Linked DNA regions of Homo sapiens. The protein of the gene in region 5 purifies or fractionates together with the protein of the main gene of each other region. This does not show direct contact. Each region holds a gene or a part of one and is shown on either strand. Other genes may lie near its edges.

What was found.
Region 1: the proteins of BEND3 (region 5) and POC1A purify together in Homo sapiens (affinity purification with mass spectrometry; one large-scale study listed by BioGRID and IntAct). This does not show direct contact.
Region 2: the proteins of BEND3 (region 5) and RBPJ purify together in Homo sapiens (affinity purification with mass spectrometry; one large-scale study listed by BioGRID and IntAct). This does not show direct contact.
Region 3: the proteins of BEND3 (region 5) and NOL6 purify together in Homo sapiens (affinity purification with mass spectrometry; one large-scale study listed by BioGRID and IntAct). This does not show direct contact.
Region 4: the proteins of BEND3 (region 5) and MAP7 purify together in Homo sapiens (affinity purification with mass spectrometry; one large-scale study listed by BioGRID and IntAct). This does not show direct contact.

What each region holds. Positions count from the first base shown.
Region 1 is NC_000003.12:52,095,331-52,099,048, reverse strand, and holds part of POC1A (POC1 centriolar protein homolog A), read left to right. Parts: intron 1-2,336; coding exon 2,337-2,480; intron 2,481-3,718.
Region 2 is NC_000004.12:26,418,376-26,422,093, forward strand, and holds part of RBPJ (recombining binding protein suppressor of hairless), read left to right. Parts: intron 1-2,175; coding exon 2,176-2,350; intron 2,351-3,718. UniProt on the Homo sapiens protein: Transcriptional regulator that plays a central role in Notch signaling, a signaling pathway involved in cell-cell communication that regulates a broad spectrum of cell-fate determinations.
Region 3 is NC_000009.12:33,467,314-33,471,031, reverse strand, and holds part of NOL6 (nucleolar protein 6), read left to right. Parts: intron 1-840; coding exon 841-1,020; intron 1,021-1,364; coding exon 1,365-1,533; intron 1,534-1,690; coding exon 1,691-1,825; intron 1,826-1,910; coding exon 1,911-2,074; intron 2,075-2,159; coding exon 2,160-2,280; intron 2,281-2,465; coding exon 2,466-2,524; intron 2,525-2,609; coding exon 2,610-2,711; intron 2,712-2,886; coding exon 2,887-3,002; intron 3,003-3,096; exon of another isoform or gene 3,097-3,163; coding exon 3,164-3,341; intron 3,342-3,515; coding exon 3,516-3,638; intron 3,639-3,718. UniProt on the Homo sapiens protein: Part of the small subunit (SSU) processome, first precursor of the small eukaryotic ribosomal subunit.
Region 4 is NC_000006.12:136,368,880-136,372,597, reverse strand, and holds part of MAP7 (ensconsin), read left to right. Parts: coding exon 1-97; intron 98-3,718. UniProt on the Homo sapiens protein: Microtubule-stabilizing protein that may play an important role during reorganization of microtubules during polarization and differentiation of epithelial cells. Associates with microtubules in a dynamic manner.
Region 5 is NC_000006.12:107,073,871-107,077,588, reverse strand, and holds part of BEND3 (BEN domain-containing protein 3), read left to right. Parts: intron 1-3,718. UniProt on the Homo sapiens protein: Transcriptional repressor which associates with the NoRC (nucleolar remodeling complex) complex and plays a key role in repressing rDNA transcription.

The DNA.
Region 1 (3,718 bases), on a different chromosome or scaffold from region 5:
CATGGAAGCCCAGCTGCAGTCAATGTCACCTGCCAGAGGCTGTCTCATGTCCGGGAAGAGCCTGCACTTTGGGTTCAGATCCCAATTCTGTTATTTGCTGGGTAACTTAGAACAAGTTACTTAACCTCTTTGAGCCCAAGGGTCCATATCTGAAAAATAAGGTTAATAATGCCTATTGGGAAGGGCCATCATAAGGATGAAGTGAGGTTACACGTATTAAGTGAGGTGACATTAAATGAGGGCACACAGTGGATGGCAAGTAAACCATGGCGATTGCTGGACTGGTGGAGTGTTAAGTGCTGTGGTGTTTTCTGATGGGAGTGGGCAAGGAGGCAGGGAAATGGCTCAGGGCAGCACTAGAGTTTGAGGCTGGTTACCTTTAGACAGTCGTTTTCTGACTGAGCCTTAGTTCTCTTTATTGTCAAATGGAGACAGCCCATGAAAGTGTGGTATAGGTGGGAAAACATGGTGGCTGCCGCAACCCTCTGTTGTAAAGGCCACCTCTCCAGCTTGGAGTGCCATGGCCGCTGTCTTTAATACTCCCTTGGAGCTGGCTCAGCTTTGGCTCATCCAGGAGGGTTTCTATTGCTAAAGTCAGTGGTACTCACCCTGCCTCCCTGCAGCATCCACTGTGCTTCCAGAGGCTGAGCTCAGCACTGTCCATTTCTGGGCCATTCTGCAGAAACTCACATTTTCCATTCCCTCCTTCCTAAGCAGCCAGCAGCACCAGACTCTGGCCCATTCCATGACAATGCTGGCTGTGGGACAGAAGAGTTCCCTGCTCACACCCTTCCTCCAGTGGAAGAGTGTGTGTCTGCACTGCTAGGGGGTCCTCTGGAAGGAGTGGGCACAGCACTGAACATTTCTTAAGAAAGGCCTGCTGGTAGCTTCAGATAAGCACCTCTCACAGCCCAGCCGTTTGAAGGACTGGCCCAGTCTTCATCCCTATTTTATAGATGAGGAAATGGAGGCCCAGAGCTGGTCAGTGACTGTCTGAGTCACCATTCCTCACCACTGCACTCTGCTGTGTCTCCTGACAGAACTGCCTTAGTCTGGGGGCCACTGTGGTAGGCTGAAGTCTCTCCTGGCAAGGCTGGTGGACTTCTGAAATTTCCTTTTGGGATGGGCTTCTGGGTAAGCATTGAGATCTGAAGCACGTTGATTCCTGGAGGACTGGAAGAGACCCAGCCCTGATGGCCGAAGTCTTAGAAATGGCCACGGAAGTGGCCGACATGCTGATGATAGGTGTGTGGACACGGTGCTGCTCATGCTGTCAAGAACATCCCTCTGGCTCATGTCTCACATTCAAGTTCTCCTGTAGCTACCATGAGGGCCAGCATTTTTCCAAGTTCAAATCAGCATGCCCTTGAAAGTTTGTGATCTATGAGAATAGAATACTTACCTAATAAAGGAAAACATGCAGGTAGGGTCCATGTGCTGAACCACATTCCCACAGGAACAAGTCCACAGAGGAACTGCAGGCTCTAAGACCAGCCCTGCCCTTGGACATCCTTGGCTCCAGCATCCCGCCCACTGAACATGTGCACAGCACTTCTTCGGTCCACAGAAGCCTTTGTGCATAAGGCAAGGAGCTGACTTTGCTGAATTTAGGGGCTGAAGGGCCTTACGCAGAAACACTAAGCCCCTCACCTCCTGGAGTCCTATCTGAAGCAGCCCAGGGGTGCCTTTCCTGTGGAGTCTGATTCCTGCCAGCCATGTGCCAGCCTGGGACATGCACACAGAAATCTTTGTTTTTCCAGGGGATCTGGGCCAGGGTGGGGTTGGAACACCCCTCTCCCCGCCACACACACACTTCCACCAAGTTCTGGGCCACAGCTTCTTGGGCCTGGGAAAGGCATTTGTGAAGCCTGGCACACCCCCATGTTGAAGGGTGGGGAATTAGAGTTGAGCTGACCAGGAAGAGGAGGGACTTCAGGCCCAGGCCAGGCTTCAGCATCTCTGGACTCACCTGGATGCCTGCTGGTGGGTGCCAGCTGCTTGAAGATATGGGAGGCAGCTAGCTTCCCTGAGGGGCTCCAAGAGCAGGCTGAGGCCACTCACTGGCCTGCCTACCTGCCCTCCTCCCCAGGCCCCTTCCTGCCTGGATCACAAGGCATTCTGATTCCACTCCCCACTTAAGGCCTCTGCCTGGAAAGGTATGTGTGTGGACCCAGATGTGGGAACACCGCCACGCTGCTGTTTCTTACTGACACTTGGAGCTTACCTTCTCAAATTTGCTGGTGGTTTTCCCTTTCATCCTTTGGAGGGGCTATTCCTCTCACAGTATTTCTTCAAGCACTGGATAGACTGAGGAACTTTTTTCTTTCTGTCTTTAGCCAGAAGTGGACTTCCCTGTCCCCCCAGGCAGAGGCAGGAGTGTGGAGTCTGTGCAGAGCCAGCCCCAGGAGCCCGTGAGTGTGCCCCAGACACTGACTAGCACGCTGGAGCACATTGTGGGCCAGCTGGATGTCCTCACTCAGGTAGGCCACACTGTGGGTTCACCCGTCATCCCGTCATCTGCACTTGGTCCCGCATTTGGACCGTTTGAAGTTGGACAACAGGTGCTGGATTTTTAAAAACATAATTATAACGGACCTGTTTTCCAGTCCATATTAATGACATTGCAGAGCCTTCCCGGGGATCCTGGCTCTTGGAGCCATTCAAGCCCTGGCCAGACCACTAGACTCCAAAATCCCCAATGCTGGGTACTACTGGAGTGTGCTCACCTAGAGCTGGCCTGGGCCACTGAAGAGCTTTGAAAGAAACACTGTGTTTGTTTATTCCTCCCACTCTTTGCTGGATGGGCACTGCAGGGGCATGCCAGGGAACTGAGTAGTGAGTCAGGGCTTCTGAGAACCTAGGCTATGAGTTTGAGCCTGGACCTTTCCTTATCCTCTGTGCAACCTTGGGGAAATCCCTTTAGTTCACCAAGCCCTGGTATGTTTATCTGTAATGTGCTGGTGGTTGTGGGCTCTGCCTGCCACATTCATGGTGAGAATTAAGGGAGATGAATCTGGGAAATGTTTGGCCCATGCCTGGCCCTAGGTAGCTGCTCAATAAATGTTAGTTGTGGCCCTGACCACCCTCGTCACTGAGATGGATATGGGCCCTGCCCTCTGGAGCGTAGGTTGGCAGCCATAACACAGGCTCGTAGTGTAGCAGTTTCAGTAAGAGCAAAATCCCTTGACAAGAGGTGGTGGCCAGCAATAGGGGCATGCTTGGCAGGGCCATTTCACCCGAGGGAGGAAGAGAGGTCCTGGCTGCCTGTGGCTCTGGAGAGGCCATGGGCACGTCCAGGGAATGAGTGAAGCTCCAGGTGGCTGTCATGTGGATATGTGGTCTTGGGGTGGGGGGCAAGGCAGGATTTAGAGGTTCCCCAATTCCTCATCTCCTTGGCTCTTGAGGCCAGGCTGGGACTCTGCAGATCCTCCTCTACCATGCCAGCACATGGGTAGAGCGAGGCTGCAAGAGGGACACATGTGGCCCACGAGGAAAAGAGGTGTTAAAGCCAGGGGGTGGGGGATGGGGAAGCAAGGAAGAGTGGTCTCCAGTCCAGCTCACATGAAGGACGCAAAGGACCCTTGATGTCACTAACGGAAATGGAGCTGAGATGGCATGGTATCCTTTCCCCAGCTTGGGATCGTGGGCTAAGTGAGAAAAGCTCTTCCAGGGTGTGTCATCATAGCCCAGCTGGGATGGCACACCTTGGGCCCACTGA
Region 2 (3,718 bases), on a different chromosome or scaffold from region 5:
TTTGTGGTCAGTGGCCTTATAGTTTTTTAAAACTAATAGTTCCCATAAAATTATCTTGATTATGATTTTTGTGGATTCAAACTACTCATTGTAATTAGGGATATATTTCCTTTCTTTCCAAGGAGATATATGTGTGTTTGTTTTTTCCGAACAAAATGCAGTTCTTTTTGTGTAGGTCTTATGATCCAACCTTCTTGGTTCTTTTTTTCCGTTCTTGTTTGCCAATATGTCTTATTTATGCTGGATTTCAGTATTTTCTCTTTCTGATATGGATCTTACCTTTTAATTTTAACACTCAAAAGCCATCTCAACATTTTTAAGCTTTCCCATTAGAATGTAATTACCTTCATTTAGATATAAATTTCATTTTTGCTTCCCATGACTGTCTGCTTTAGTACATTGATACCCATTTTCATAGACCTCGTCTTATGTTGCAGAAGAATTTCATTGTTTAGGCTTAATTTGACCTTCAATGCTGTCTGTCACTTTTAAGAGTATGGCCGACCTATGGGTATAGCAGCTCACAGATGCCATCTCTGAGTGCGTTAGAGATCTTGGGTGCAAGGAGTGATGTGACTGCAAAGTACTGTTGTTTTTTGTTTCTTTATCTTTATTCATTTTGAGACAGGGTGCCACCGTGCCGCCCAGGCTGGAGTGCGGTGGTGGGATCACGGCCCATTACAACCTCTGCCTCCTGGGCTCAAGCGACCGTCCCACCTCAGCCTCCTGAGTAGCTGGGACTACAGGCATGCACCACCATGCCTGGATAATTTTTGTGTTTTTCGTAGAGATGGGGTTTCACCATGTTGCTCAGGCTGGTCTCAAACTTCTGGACTTAAGCAGTCTGTCCACCTTGGCCTCCCAAAGTGCTGAGATTACAGGCATGAGCCACCACCCTGGCCTGTTTTTATTTATTACTATGATTGGCTTTATCTTATTTTTGCCTTCTACAGAGCAAAACCTCTCAAAGCTTTTACCAAACTTTTGATTTTTAAAAACTTAGTTAAATGTATAATGTTCAAGATGGCATCTAAATTTTCTTATATAGCTTTGCTATGAGAAATACAATAAACTATTGCAGTAGTTTTGTCTGCTACCGAGGCTGTCTGTGAATAAAATTTTAAAGATAAAAACCTAGAAGTCATTAACTGTTTCCTGAGTAGCATTTGCTCTGCTTTTTAAAAGGAAGATACAGGAGAGGCAGTTGAAGAAACTTGTTTAGCTTAATTTTAAAGTGGAATGTTGATCCTTTAAAAAATATAATTCGATACTTTAGATACTTATGCTGTGTTTCAGCATCATTTATCTTATCTGGAAAAGGACAATAATTTAGACCCCTCCCTGATTCACAGGGATCAAGAGAATAGGAAAGATTTTAGAATTGTTATATATAATATAAGCAGTAGCATTTTGAAGGGTCTTTGCTGTTTGTAAAGTGCTATATCTCTTTATCTTTTCAGTTATCAGAATTTAAATTCTGGTAAACTGACATAATGCCTTGAGCATTTTCTCTAGTACCTTTAAATTCAGTTCTTCTGGTGATACATATGAATCGTCCTTTTGGGCAAAGTTAACCATTTTAAAAATAGTTCTTTAAAGTAATGCTTATATAATCTCTTTCTGGTTTAAGATATTTTATAATCATCCAGTTTGTCTATCATTGTTTTCCTCAATCTTATAAGTGATTACTCTAGTGTTCAGCTATATAAAGAAAAATATTTTATGCACTATTTTGAGAAGAACTACTGCTAAAATCTTTTACATAATTTCTTGAATTCTGATAGCTTTATTATTATTTTTTTTTTGGAGAAAGTCATTGATTTTTTTTAACTGTAAAATTTATTTTAAAAGTTACTGCTGTAACGTTGAGTGATAATTCCATGATACAGTTGTAGAGCTATGTAAAACAAGAAAAGGCTGTTTTTTTAAATGGTCTTTTAAAGAGGATACAATAGATGACAATGTTTGTGTTCTACAGACTTTATAAGGAAGACTTTGTACTTTTCCGAAATCAATTTCAGTAATTTTTATAGTTGATAATTTTTAGAGTTGGTTTTATCAGCTATCCCTTGGAATTGTTTTACTTATTACTTAAACCATGGCCATTCTGAGTTTTAGGTACTACATAAACAAACAAGGTTTTGCTGCTGTTAAAACTTTACTTTTCTTTCACAGAACTATTGCACAGCCAAAACATTGTATATATCTGACTCAGACAAGCGAAAGCACTTCATGTTGTCTGTAAAGATGTTCTATGGCAACAGTGATGACATTGGTGTGTTCCTCAGCAAGCGGATAAAAGTCATCTCCAAACCTTCCAAAAAGAAGCAGTCATTGAAAAATGCTGACTGTATGTATGCTTTTCTTATTTATCCCCAACTGCCACCATGAATTAATAAGACAGACTCTTTTTTAAATTAAAAATTGCCTTTTCAATAGCCAATTAATTCTTTACTAATATTTTTGTGGCCCTCTTTATTGTCTCTCTTTTTTTAATCGTAAATCGACAGTATGTGGTCTAATGAAGCAGTTCTTAACCAGAGTTGGTTCCTTAATGCTCCCAGGGACATTCTGGGGAAATGGGAGATTTTCTCCTTCTGTTGTTACAGTGACTGGAGGGGGTGATGTTGGCTTTGGGTGTCTTGAGCCTGTGGTGCTGAATTGAATGTCCTGCAGTGTCCAAGGTAGTTCCCATTCCACAAAGAATTGATCTACCCACAATGTCAACAAGTACCCCTTTGAAAAACGCTACCAACTAAATGGGCTTTGGCAGGCCTTCCTGAGAATCTAAACACAATTTTTAATGTGGTTGCTCTGGCAGAGACTGCTGTCTCATCAGCCTATTTTTAGACTACCAAACAAGTATGTTTGAATTATAAATTTAACCTCCACACCCATTTTTCTTTTTTTAACTTTTTATTATGGAGACTTTTCTTTTTTTTTTTGAGATGGACTCTTACTCTGTCGCCCAGGCTGGAGTGCAGTGGCAGGATCTCAGCTCACTGCAACCTCCACCTCCCGGGTTCAACCAATCCTCCCTGCCTCAGCCTCCTGAGTAGCTGGGATTACAGGTGCCCACCATCACGCCCGGCTGATTTTGTATTTTTTAGTAGAGATGAGGTTTCGCCATTTGGCCAGGCTGGTCTTGAACTCCTGACCTCAGGTGATCCACCCACCTCGACCTCCCAAAGTGTTGGGATTGCAGGCGTGAGCCACCATGCCTGGCTGAGACTTTCAAATTTATATAAAAGGGAGAAATTAGCCACCCAGCCTCAACAGGTTTTATCAATTCTGTTTCATTATCTCCATCACCACCAACACCTCTTCGTCTTCTAATTGCTGGAGTATTTTAATGTAAATCTCATCCTATCCTTTCAACCAAAATTTCTGCAATAGTGACTAATACATGCCCTTTTTTTTGAAACATCATTATACGTAACAGTTGACAGCAGCTCTTAAGTGTCATCTAATATCCTATTTCATGTACAGATTTATCAGATTGACCCAGAATGTCTTTTTATAGTTTTTTTGCTTTGTTTTGTTTTACAGTGGTTTGTTCAAACATGGATTCAGATAAGGTCCACACATTTTAGTCTGTAATAGTTTCTTCTCACCCTCTCTCACCTTTGTTTTCCTTCTATGTCATTTATTTGTTGAAGAAACTGGATCATTTTTCCTGTTGTGGAATTCCATATTCTGGGTTTGGCTGATTATATGT
Region 3 (3,718 bases), on a different chromosome or scaffold from region 5:
CAAAGTGCTGGGATTACAGGTGTGAGCCACCGTGCCCAGCCTAAAACGTTCACTTTTCCAGCCTTAAAAAGTTTAGTTTTAGAAAAATTTACTCCGGCTGTTGTGTCAAAAGTAGAATCGAGAGGGACAATGATGAGATTAGAGAGACCAGTTAGGAACTAGTCTAGGCACTGAGAAATGGTGGCTCCTCAAACTAGGGAGGAAAGTAGTGAAGTGATCCATTTCTTTCTTTTTTTTTTTTTTTTTTAAATCTTTTCCTCTCTCTGTTTTAAAAAAGTTTTCTTTTTAGAGAAGTGATCCATTTCTGAATACATTTTGGTAGTAAAATGGGTATTCTTTTTTTTTTTGAGACAGAGTCTTGCTCTGTTCCCCAGGCTGTAGTGCAGTGGTGCGATCTCGGCTCACTGCATGCTCCGCCTTCCGGGTTCACGCCATTCTTCTGCCTCAGCCTCCCCAGCAGCTGGGACTACAGGCGCACGCCGCCATGCCCGGCTAATTATTTTTGTAGAGACGGGGTTTCACCGTGTTAGCCAGGATGGTCTCGATCTTCTGACCTCGTGATCCGCCCACCTCGGCCTCCCAAAGTGCTGGGATTACAGGCGTGAGCCACCACGCCCGGCTCGTAAAATGGGTATTCTTAACAGAGCTAAGTTAAGGTGATTTAAGTGGTTTTGGCTTGAGCAACTCATATGGAGTTGTCTTAGCAAGGAAGACATAGTTATGGGAAGATTGGGAGTTTGGTTTCAAACATATCGATGTGTTAAAATGTCTTCTAGACATAAAGGGTACATGTGAGGAAGGCAGTTGAATCAGTATGTGTCCCTGTCTCTGCCCCCACAGCTCACTGACCAGGCATGGCTCCCAGCTGGGGTTCGAGTGCCCCTCCACCAAGTGCCCTATGCCGTGAAGGGCTGTTTCCGCTTCCTGCCCCCAGCCCAGGTTACTGTTGTGGGCAGCTACCTTCTGGGCACCTGCATCCGACCAGACATCAATGTGGATGTGGCACTGACCATGCCCAGGGTAAGGTCCAGGGTTTAGGGGATAGAGGCCCACCACCTGACTACCTACAAATCCTGGATCCCTCTTTCTTATCTGCCGCTTGCCAGGGGATTGAAGTCAGAATTCTAAATCAGAAGAGCAGACCATTGCAGGCATCCTGAAGGCAGCTTAGATCCCTCGGGCCAGTTGCTGTCCTTTTGGAGCTTTGCTCTCCAGATATGAGAACTGGGCCTAGTGTTGCTAACCGTGGCTCAGGCACTTCTGTCAGCAGAGGAGCCCTGGCTCTCTCACCTTGGTTTCACCTTGGCCCACAGCTCCACAAGCACTTATGTGCCTGGCCTTCTCTTCTCCCCTGGCCCCTCCAGGAAATCCTACAGGACAAGGACGGGCTGAACCAGCGCTACTTCCGCAAGCGTGCCCTCTACCTGGCCCACTTGGCTCACCACCTGGCCCAGGACCCCCTCTTTGGCAGTGTTTGCTTCTCCTACACAAATGGCTGCCACCTGAAACCCTCACTGTTGCTGCGGCCGCGTGGTGAGAGGCACACATTGGGCTGAGGGCATAGCATGGGATGGTAAATCTGGAGGAGAAGGCACAGAGGCACGGAGGCCTCAAGTATGGGGGGACAGGATGGGGAGCCCTCTGGCTCCAAGGGCTCCTGCAGAGTCTCAGCACTCACTGTCTCTGGCAGGAAAGGATGAGCGCCTGGTCACTGTACGTCTGCATCCGTGCCCTCCACCTGACTTCTTCCGCCCGTGCCGCTTGCTGCCAACCAAGAACAATGTGCGCTCTGCCTGGTACCGAGGGCAGAGTCCTGCAGGGGATGGTGAGCAGGCCCTGGTGTTGAGGTGGAGCTGGAGGGAAGAGGTGTGGGGACTTTTCCTCTCATGGCTTCCCTTTTCATCCCACAGGTAGCCCAGAGCCTCCTACCCCCCGCTATAACACATGGGTCCTGCAAGATACAGTTCTCGAGTCCCATTTGCAGCTGCTGTCAACCATTCTGAGTTCAGCCCAGGGCCTGAAGGATGGCGTGGCACTTCTGAAGGTCTGGCTGCGGCAGCGGGAGCTGGACAAGGTGAGTTGGGGGTGGCGCAGCCTCCCTACCTGAGCGCCTGTGTGATGGGCAGGCTCTGACCTCAGCCTCTCCCTGTCTCTTTCAGGGCCAGGGTGGGTTTACTGGGTTCCTTGTCTCCATGCTGGTTGTCTTCCTTGTGTCTACACGCAAGATCCATACCACCATGAGTGGCTACCAGGTCCTGAGAAGTGTCTTGCAGTTTCTGGGTGAGGCAACTAGGTGGGGAAAGGCCAGGGGCTCCACTCCTCCTGGGAATCCTCTCATCCCAGTAGCAGTCTTTTGGTGTTTTGCCATCAGACAGATGAGCAAACTGAATCGGCTGAGGGAGGGTGTCATTAGGGCTGGGTCCCCAGAAGGGGATACCTTCTAATACACTTGTGATTCACTTCAGCCACTACAGACCTGACAGTCAACGGGATCAGTTTATGTCTCAGCTCAGATCCCTCTTTGGTGAGTTGGGGAAGGGCCAGGTCTATGCCAGGAGGCCTGCAAGTAAGGTGCCAATCCTGACCTGCTTCTCTCTACACCCCCCAAGCCGGCCCTGGCTGACTTCCACCAGGCCTTCTCCGTTGTCTTCCTGGATTCCTCAGGCCATCTCAACCTCTGTGCTGATGTCACTGCCTCTACTTACCACCAGGTACCAATGGGCCCCCAATCTGTGTTCCCCTGATGTCTCAGCCCAGACTCTGTCCCTTTTGCAAGTACCAGAACCCCAGAAACTCCTCTTCAAAGAGTTAAGTTTAGGGCATGTCTCCTGGTCTAAGCCCTTGGATCAATGAAGGGCACAGGGATGGTCCCTTCTGTGGCTCCAGGTACAGCATGAGGCACGGCTGTCTATGATGTTGCTGGACAGCAGAGCTGACGACGGGTTCCACCTGCTGTTGATGACTCCCAAACCCATGATCCGGGCTTTTGACCATGTCCTGCAGTGAGTTTAGGGGTGACAGGGTATGTTGGCGGGTCCTGTCTCTTCGGGGCTACAGTGGTGGGGCAAAGGTCTTCAGACAGGTGCTCAGATCATTCAGGGAGGAGGTGGTACTAGGGGCCAGCAACCTGATTACCCCTCTTTGGCCCTTTGTACCCCTCCAGTCTCCGTCCACTGAGTCGCCTGCAGGCAGCGTGCCACCGGCTGAAGCTCTGGCCAGAGCTGCAGGACAATGGTGGGGACTATGTCTCAGCTGCTTTGGGCCCCCTGACCACCCTCCTGGAGCAGGGCCTGGGGGCTCGGCTGAACCTGCTGGCTCACTCTCGACCCCCAGTCCCAGAGGTGAGGTGGTGTAGGTTGGGGAGTTTGGGTCTGAGTTGGGCTGGATCCAGGGTCCCAAGAGACACAAAGGACACACCATTCCTCCAGCTAGGCGTTTCTAGCTAGCTAGAAAGTAGGTTTCTAGGCCAGGCTGGAGGATTGGAGGACTGAGCTCAGCCTTTTGAAATCCTGCAGTGGGACATCAGCCAAGATCCACCAAAGCACAAAGACTCTGGGACCCTGACCCTGGGACTCCTTCTCCGGCCTGAGGGACTGACCAGCGTCCTTGAGCTGGGTCCAGAGGCAGACCAGCCTGAGGTGGGGGACCCCAGCATGTACACTGGAAGGAATGGGGTGGCTCGTCCTCATGGCACCTGGACTGAAGCTTGTTGGGGAGG
Region 4 (3,718 bases), about 29 Mb from region 5:
CAAAGCTGCACACTCTAGAAATTCGATGGATCGACCAAAACTCTTTGTAACACCACCTGAGGGCTCTTCTCGCAGGAGGATCATTCATGGCACAGCGGTGAGTAGCTGTTGGGAGCAGCTGGGCAAGTCTGGGAGCCAGTGCTGTTCCTGTGCAGACTGTACATGACCCTGAGCTGTGGTGTGGGCGTAAGAGGGGGAGACCGTGACATCCACCATCCCATCTTTCCCATTGATCATGAATCTGGCTAGCTGGGCAGTAGTGTCCCCTCACTTCCTCTTCACTTGGGGATTTTGCTCTCCCTAAACATTTGAATTTGAAGATGAAAGCTGTTCTTTGTTCAAGCATGTATGAGTGGACGCCCTACCCTCCTGGAGCGTCCATACACATAAGTACAATGCCAGAATACTTTCATTTTTGAAAGTAGGAAAACCAAATGGCCTTTGAAGGGGAAGTGGGCTTGGACTGCTGCCTTGGCATTTTATTTCAACCATATCCAGAAGCTGGCTGAACTCTAAATGTGGTTCACTCAAAAGCAAGATAAAGAATTTTTATCCTGCTTGGCTAATCCCTGTCAAGGCCCTGTCAAGGGATCTTAAAATTTAGTCAAAAAAGTATTTTGAAAACATTAGTCATTTGCTATATCACTAATTCGTAAAAGGCTGTTAGGCTGTGCTATAAATTCTGATTTTGTAAGTGAAAAATATAATTTGTACTTATTATTACGGGCTGAGGTAATGTTAATTTTCACCATGCTATAAATGCAATGAGGTAATTTGTATGTCTCCAGGAATCTTCTTCTTTGTTTTAAATCTTGTGTTTATTTGGTGTCAGTTGAAAGATATAAACCTTGTTCTGTGGTCTTTAGACATTGTACTTTAGTCTTAAAGGACTCACCAGTGAACTAGAAGATCTCATTGCCTCTCTCCAGGATAACAGTATGACCCTTTTGATGAAAGGCTGAAACAGTTTCTTAAAATCGTAACTTCCCAGAGCAATTCAGATTTATAAACCTGATGGACACTTAAAAGGATTTTGCTTAAAGGATAATTCAGGGTTGTGAGAGCTTGATGGCTTTGCCTACAGCCTGTTTTTCTTTCAAGCTCCATCGGCCTTTCTGGAATCAGTGTTTGATTCATGATTGAGTCAGGCCTCCAACCCTCTAAGCCACAGGTGAAACAATCTTTGATGTCTGGAAAGTTTTAATTTATTAGAGTGTTGGTGTTTCAGAGATCCTCCTTAGCTGTAGACAGAAAGCCGTAGTTAAACAGAACAGGTTGGCCCCAAAGTTGGGTACTCACTGGGCAGGGGAAAAGAGCATTTACCATGGAAAAACTATCTTGTTCTGGGTAAAAACAAAAATTAACACTCCTTGAGAGAAGGTTGAGGGCCACCTGTGGCTGACAGGTTAAATGAGAGATTTGTCATCACATGATCCAGAGCCTTGTTTTGTTTTGTTTTTATTACCTTCCTCTTTCTCTATTTAATCACATAGCTGTCTTTTTACCTCTTTACAACCAAGTATTTAGGCAAATACTAACAGAAAACGACTCAGAGTCATTTATACCCTGGAGCTGCACTGTGGAATTCAGTAGTGACTGGCCACAGTGAGCACTTGGAAAGTGGCTACTGAAACTGACAAGCTAAATTTTAAGTTTTTAAAAAATATTTAGTTGTGTTAAAAAAAAAAAAAAGCATGTAACGTAAAATTTACCATTTTAATCATTCTAAAGTTCAGCAGTGTTAAGTATATTCATATTGAAGTGCAACCAATGTCCAGAACTTTTTAAGTCCTGCAAAACTCAAACTCTATACCCATTAAACAACTCCCCATTTCCCCCTCCCCCCAGGCCCTGGCAGCCACTGTTTTAATTTCTGTTCCTATGAATTTAGCTACTTTATAGACCACATAAAAGTGAAATCATGCAGTGTTTGAATTTTTGTGCCTGGCTTATTTCACTTAGCATAATGTCCTCAAGGTTCATTCTTATTATAGCATATGTCAGAATTTCCTTCCTTTTTAGGGCTGAATTATATTCCATTATATTTGTATACCACATTTTGTTTATCAGTTCATGTGTTGGTGAACATTTGGGTTGCTTTCACCTCGTGGCTATTGTGAATAACGCTGCTATGAACATGGGAATATAGATATCTCTAGAGATTGTTCTTTCAATTTCACTTGATATATAGGGATTGCTGGATCATATAGTAATCCTATTTTCAATTTTTTGAGGAGCCTCCATGCCATTTTCCACAGCAGCTGTACCATTTTACATTCCCACTAACAGTGCACAAAGATTTCTGTATCTCCACATTCTCGCCAACAATCGTGATCTTGTTTTTTGATAACAGCCACCTTAAGGAATGTGAGGTGATGTCTTGTAGTTTTGGTTTGCATTTCTTTAATGATCAGTGATGGTGAACATATTTTCATATGCTTGTTGGCTTTTCATGTGTCATCGTTAGAAAAATGGCAATTCCAGTCTTTGCTCACTTTTTAATGGGGTTATTTTGTTTTTGTTGAATTGTAGAGTTATTTATATATTCTAGTAGTAACCCCTTATTAAATATATGACTTACAGATACTTTCTTCTATTCCATAGGTTGCCTTTTTACTCTACTGATTGTTTCCTTTGATATATAGAAGTGTTTAAGTTTGATGTTGTCCCATTTGTTTATTGTTAATTTATTGACACTTTATTGCCTACGCTTTTAGTGTTATATCCAAGAAATCAGTACCAAACACAGTGTCATGAAGCTTTTCACTTATGTTTTCTTCTAGAGGTTTTATAGTGTTAAGTCTTACATTTAAGTCTTTAATCCATTTTGAGTTAACTTTTGTATATTTTAGAAGGTAAGAGTCCAACTTCATTCTTTTGCATTTGGATATCCAGTTTTCCCTGCATCATTTGTTGAAGAGAATGTCCTTGTTTCATTGAGTGGTGTTAGCTTTTGACCATATACACAAGGGTTTGTTTCTGGGCTCTGGATTCTATTCCATTGGTCTATATATCTTTTTTTTTTTTGAGACAGTCTCACTCTGTCACCCATGCTGGAGTACAATGGCACAATCTCAGCTCACTGCAACCTCTGCCTCCCAGGCTCAAGCAATTCTCATGTCCAGCCTTCTGAGTAGCTGGGAATACAGGCATGTGCTACCACGCCCATCTAATTTTTGTATTTTTAGTAGAGAGAGGGTTTCGCCATGTAGGCCAGGCTGGTCTTGAACTCCTGACCTCAAGCGATCCACCCATCTCGGCCTCCCCAAATGCTGGGATTGCAGACATGAGTCGTAGTGCCCAGCCCCATATATCTATATCTGTCTTGATACCATTACCACACAGTACTGATCACTGTAGCTTTTCACCAATTGAGTATCTCTAATTCAAAAATACAGAATGCTCCAAAATGTGAAACTTTTTGAATACCAACATGACACTCAAAGGAGATGCTCATTGGAGCATTTCACATTTCCAGTTATATGGATTAAGGCTGCTAAAGCAGTAAGTGTTAATGCAAGTATTCCAGAATCTGAAATCTGCACACTGTAATCCCAATCATTTTGGATAAGGGATACTCAACCTGTAATATGTTGTGAAATCAGGAAATGTAAGAATTCCAACTTTGTTCTTTTTCAAGATTATTTTGGTTCTTCAGGATCCTTTGAAATTTTCTGTGAATTTTGGGTTGAATTTTTATATTTCTGCAAAAATAAAA
Region 5 (3,718 bases):
TCTCCCCAGAATCTTGTTTCTTCGGCCATCTTAGCACATCCTTCACCCTTACCATATAGTGTTGGCAGCAGAAGGATGACCCACAGAGTAAGAGCCGTGAGAGCAGAGACTGTGTCTGGCTTGATCCTGGGAGGTCACCGTATTGATGCTGAACTTAGTGAGGGGTACCACTGGGTTGCCTAAGGAGGGGTGAACCGGCTCAGGTCAGAAACAGAGCAGGTCAGAACTCCCCTGCTGATCAGTAGTGGGGTCACGCCTGTGAACATAGGCAACTTAGTGCAGCCCTGTCTCTGATTTAATTTAAAAAAAAATTGTTTTGGCCAGATGTGGTGGCTCACACTTGTAATTCCAACACTTTGGGAAGCCAAGGTGGGCCGATTACTGGAGCTCAAGAGTTCGAGGCCAGCCTGGACAACATGGTGAGCACATTTAAAATAGGATTTTGTGCAGAAAGAGATCATTAGAAATTCATATACTGTGCAACAAGAGTACATGTTCTAGAGGGAGACCTGCCCTAATTAATACCCAGGATAGAAAAATAAGTACAGGGTCTCTACTAAAAATACAAAAAAAATTAGCTGACCATGGTGGTGTGTGCCTGTGGTCCCAACTACTTGGGAGGCTGTGGTGGGAGGATAACTTGAGCCTGGGGAGGGTGGGGAGTGATGGCGAAGGTTGCAGTGAGCCAAGATCACATCACTGCACTCCAGCCTGGGCAACAGAGTGAGATCCTGTCTCAAAAAAAAATTTGATGATGATGATGAAAATAATAATGTTGAAAATGAAAGTGGTATAAGCATCATTCATGCGACTGTGATTCCAGGAGGGAGATGCCAGCCCAACTGACCACTGTTTCACATGGCCTCTCTGCTTCCCCAAGCCATGCTGCTTTCTGAGTGTTCCAGCGTGCTGACTCTCAGGGCACTTTTGAGCCACTCATTCATTGAACTAAATTCAGTGACCACTCTTGGATTTGGGGTTGCGATGAAGACGTCTAGCACTTGGAGCATCTCCAGGGTGTCCCACTCCCTGGGATGTCACTGGGCATGGACACCTGGAGTCTCCCTAAATAGTCTATTTACCCCTCACTTGTAACCCAACATCAGCTTCTTTTTGTTCAGTCAGATTCTCCAGCTGAGAGATTTGGGCATTCTCTCTGGGTTCTACGGGTGCTGGTGGCTGAATGAAACGCCCTGATCAAGATCCGGGCTAGACGCTGGCATTGCAGAGCCTGAGCTGTACAGCAGAGTTCCCATATGGTTGGAAGACGAGCCTCAGAGAATTGGGAATGTGTCAGCCAGTCCTACCCAGTGCCAAGTAGCACAGATTTAAAGATTTCTTGATACTCCTAGACAGCTGAGCCGAGATTTTATCATCAGCCACAAACGCAGCCAGCCCATTGCCGCCTTGGCAGCATTTGTGGAATTAATTGGAGCACTGAGCTGACAGGACACCAGTGTGGGAGTATCTAAGAAGTTTCTCTTCAGTGCTTGTGTTGTGTTCTGTGTTGAATTGTGTACCCAAGGTTTCTGGGAGTGAATATTGCCCTCTACTGGGACACTAACATTTTTAATTCAAGCAATCTAGCCAAAAATGTTTCTGTTGACGGCAGTGTTTCTAACATGCTTGGTGGAAATGGAAATATTTGTATTAATGAGGCTGAATATTGAGAGTTATGGGGGGTTTCCCAGTTTCAATGTACTCTTGCCTCCCACCTGCTGTAGGAATGTGAGGGAGTCAAACCTTGTGTGTGTTGTTGGTATTCAAATAATTCACCAGAAACTTTTCCCTGTACTCATTTCTCCCCTGGGCAAGTCTCCCTCTAGAACATGTACTCTTGTTGCATGCTATATACGTTTCTGATGATCTCTTTCTTAGGAAATTCTATTTTAAATGTGCTAATGGAACCTTATTTTAAAGCAAAGTCTCCTTTTCTAAAATCACTCCTAATATAGTTATGATTTGTAATTGTTAGTACTCCAAACCCAAATTTCTCTCTATTGGTAAACCTTATAGTAATCTTATAGTCCATGGGACCTCTAAAATTATTTTAGTGTAATAGAACTAAATGGTGAATAAATTGCCAAAAATTTTACTTTACATTCTACAGGAATTAGCAAGTAAGGCACTTTGTATTTGTTAGGGCAATGGTTTTCCACAGTGACCCACAGTTATAAATCACCTTATAGAGCAATACAACTTACCTGTATGAATTTGTAAATAAGTATTTAGACATACACATAGTAATGAAACAAAACTCTTAACTTGATTTACTTTGTGCAGTACACTTTGATATTTTCTATTCTTTTTGCTTTCTTATTTCCTCCTTCCCTCCCTCTTTATTTATTTATTTATTTATTTTTGAGACACAGTCTCACTCTGTCGCCTAAGCTATGGTACAGTGGTGCAGTCACAGCTCACTGCAACCTCCACCTCCAAGACTCAAGTGATCCTCCCACCTAAGCCTCCCTAGTGGCTAATCCTTCCCTCTTCTTTTTTTTTTTTGAGACGCTCTGTTGCCCAGGCTGGAGTGCAGTGGCACTCACTGCCACCTCCGCCTCCCGGGTTCAAGTGATTCTCCTGCCTTAGCCTCCTGAGTAGCTGGGACTACAGGCGTGTGCTACCACTCCCAGCTAATTTTTTGTATTTTTAGTAGAGATGGAGTTTCACTGCGTTAGCCAGGATGGTCTCAATCTCCTGACCTCGTGATCCACTCACCTCAGCCTCCCAAAGTGCTGGGATTATAGGCATGAGCCACCGTGCCCGGCTCCTCCCTCTTCACGATCCACCAAAATCAGTTATCATCTACTATCCCACAATTTGAAACACTGCATTAGGGGTAAAGGTTTTCAGCTATCTCCACCCCTTCCTTTCTGGTGTGTGTATATGTTTTCTTTTCTTTCTTTTTTAAAGAAATAATGCCAGATAACAGAACAGAAGAAACATAAAGGGCTTAAATTCCCAGCCTTTAGGACAAACAGACCTCTAAGAAGTGCCTTCCATGAGTGACTTACCCTGAGGCACTGTGGGAAAGTCCTTCTCAGTGTACTTGAGAGTGTCATTACAACTCCCCTAATAAAAGTCCCCTACAGAACTACCTCTGCCATGGCTTGGGAATAGCATTACGTAATAATAAATCATATTGTAATAATAAATTTTTATGTATTTATTTTTGAGACAGAGTCTCACTCTGTTGCCCAGGCCAGAGTGCAGTGGCACGATCTTGGCTCACTGCAACCTCCGCCTCCCAGGTTCAAGCAGTTCTCCTGCCTCAGCCTCCCGAGTAGCTGGGATTACAAGCACGCGCCACCACACCCAACTAATTTTGTATTTTTAGTAGAGATGGGGTTTCACCGTGTTGGCCAGGCTAGTTTCGAACTCCTGACCTCAAGTGATCCACCCGCCTCGGCCTCCCAAAGTGCTGGGATTACAGGCATGAGCCACCGCACCCGGCCATAAATATTTATTAAGCACTTAGTGTGATTCAGATAGACTCAGTGCTGTGTGTGCACTGTCTCCTTAAATCCTCACAACCACCCTGTGGGACAGGTAGCATGATTTACCCTGAGTAAAGGAAGGTGAGGCTTACAAGGTCACAAACAGAATGCTTGCTGATTGAGCTGAGTTCTTAGCCACACCTTCATGCCAGTGCTCTTATCAGAACAGCTCCTTTTCTTTTTTTTCTCCTTTTCTTTTTCTTTCTGAGACAGGGTCTTGC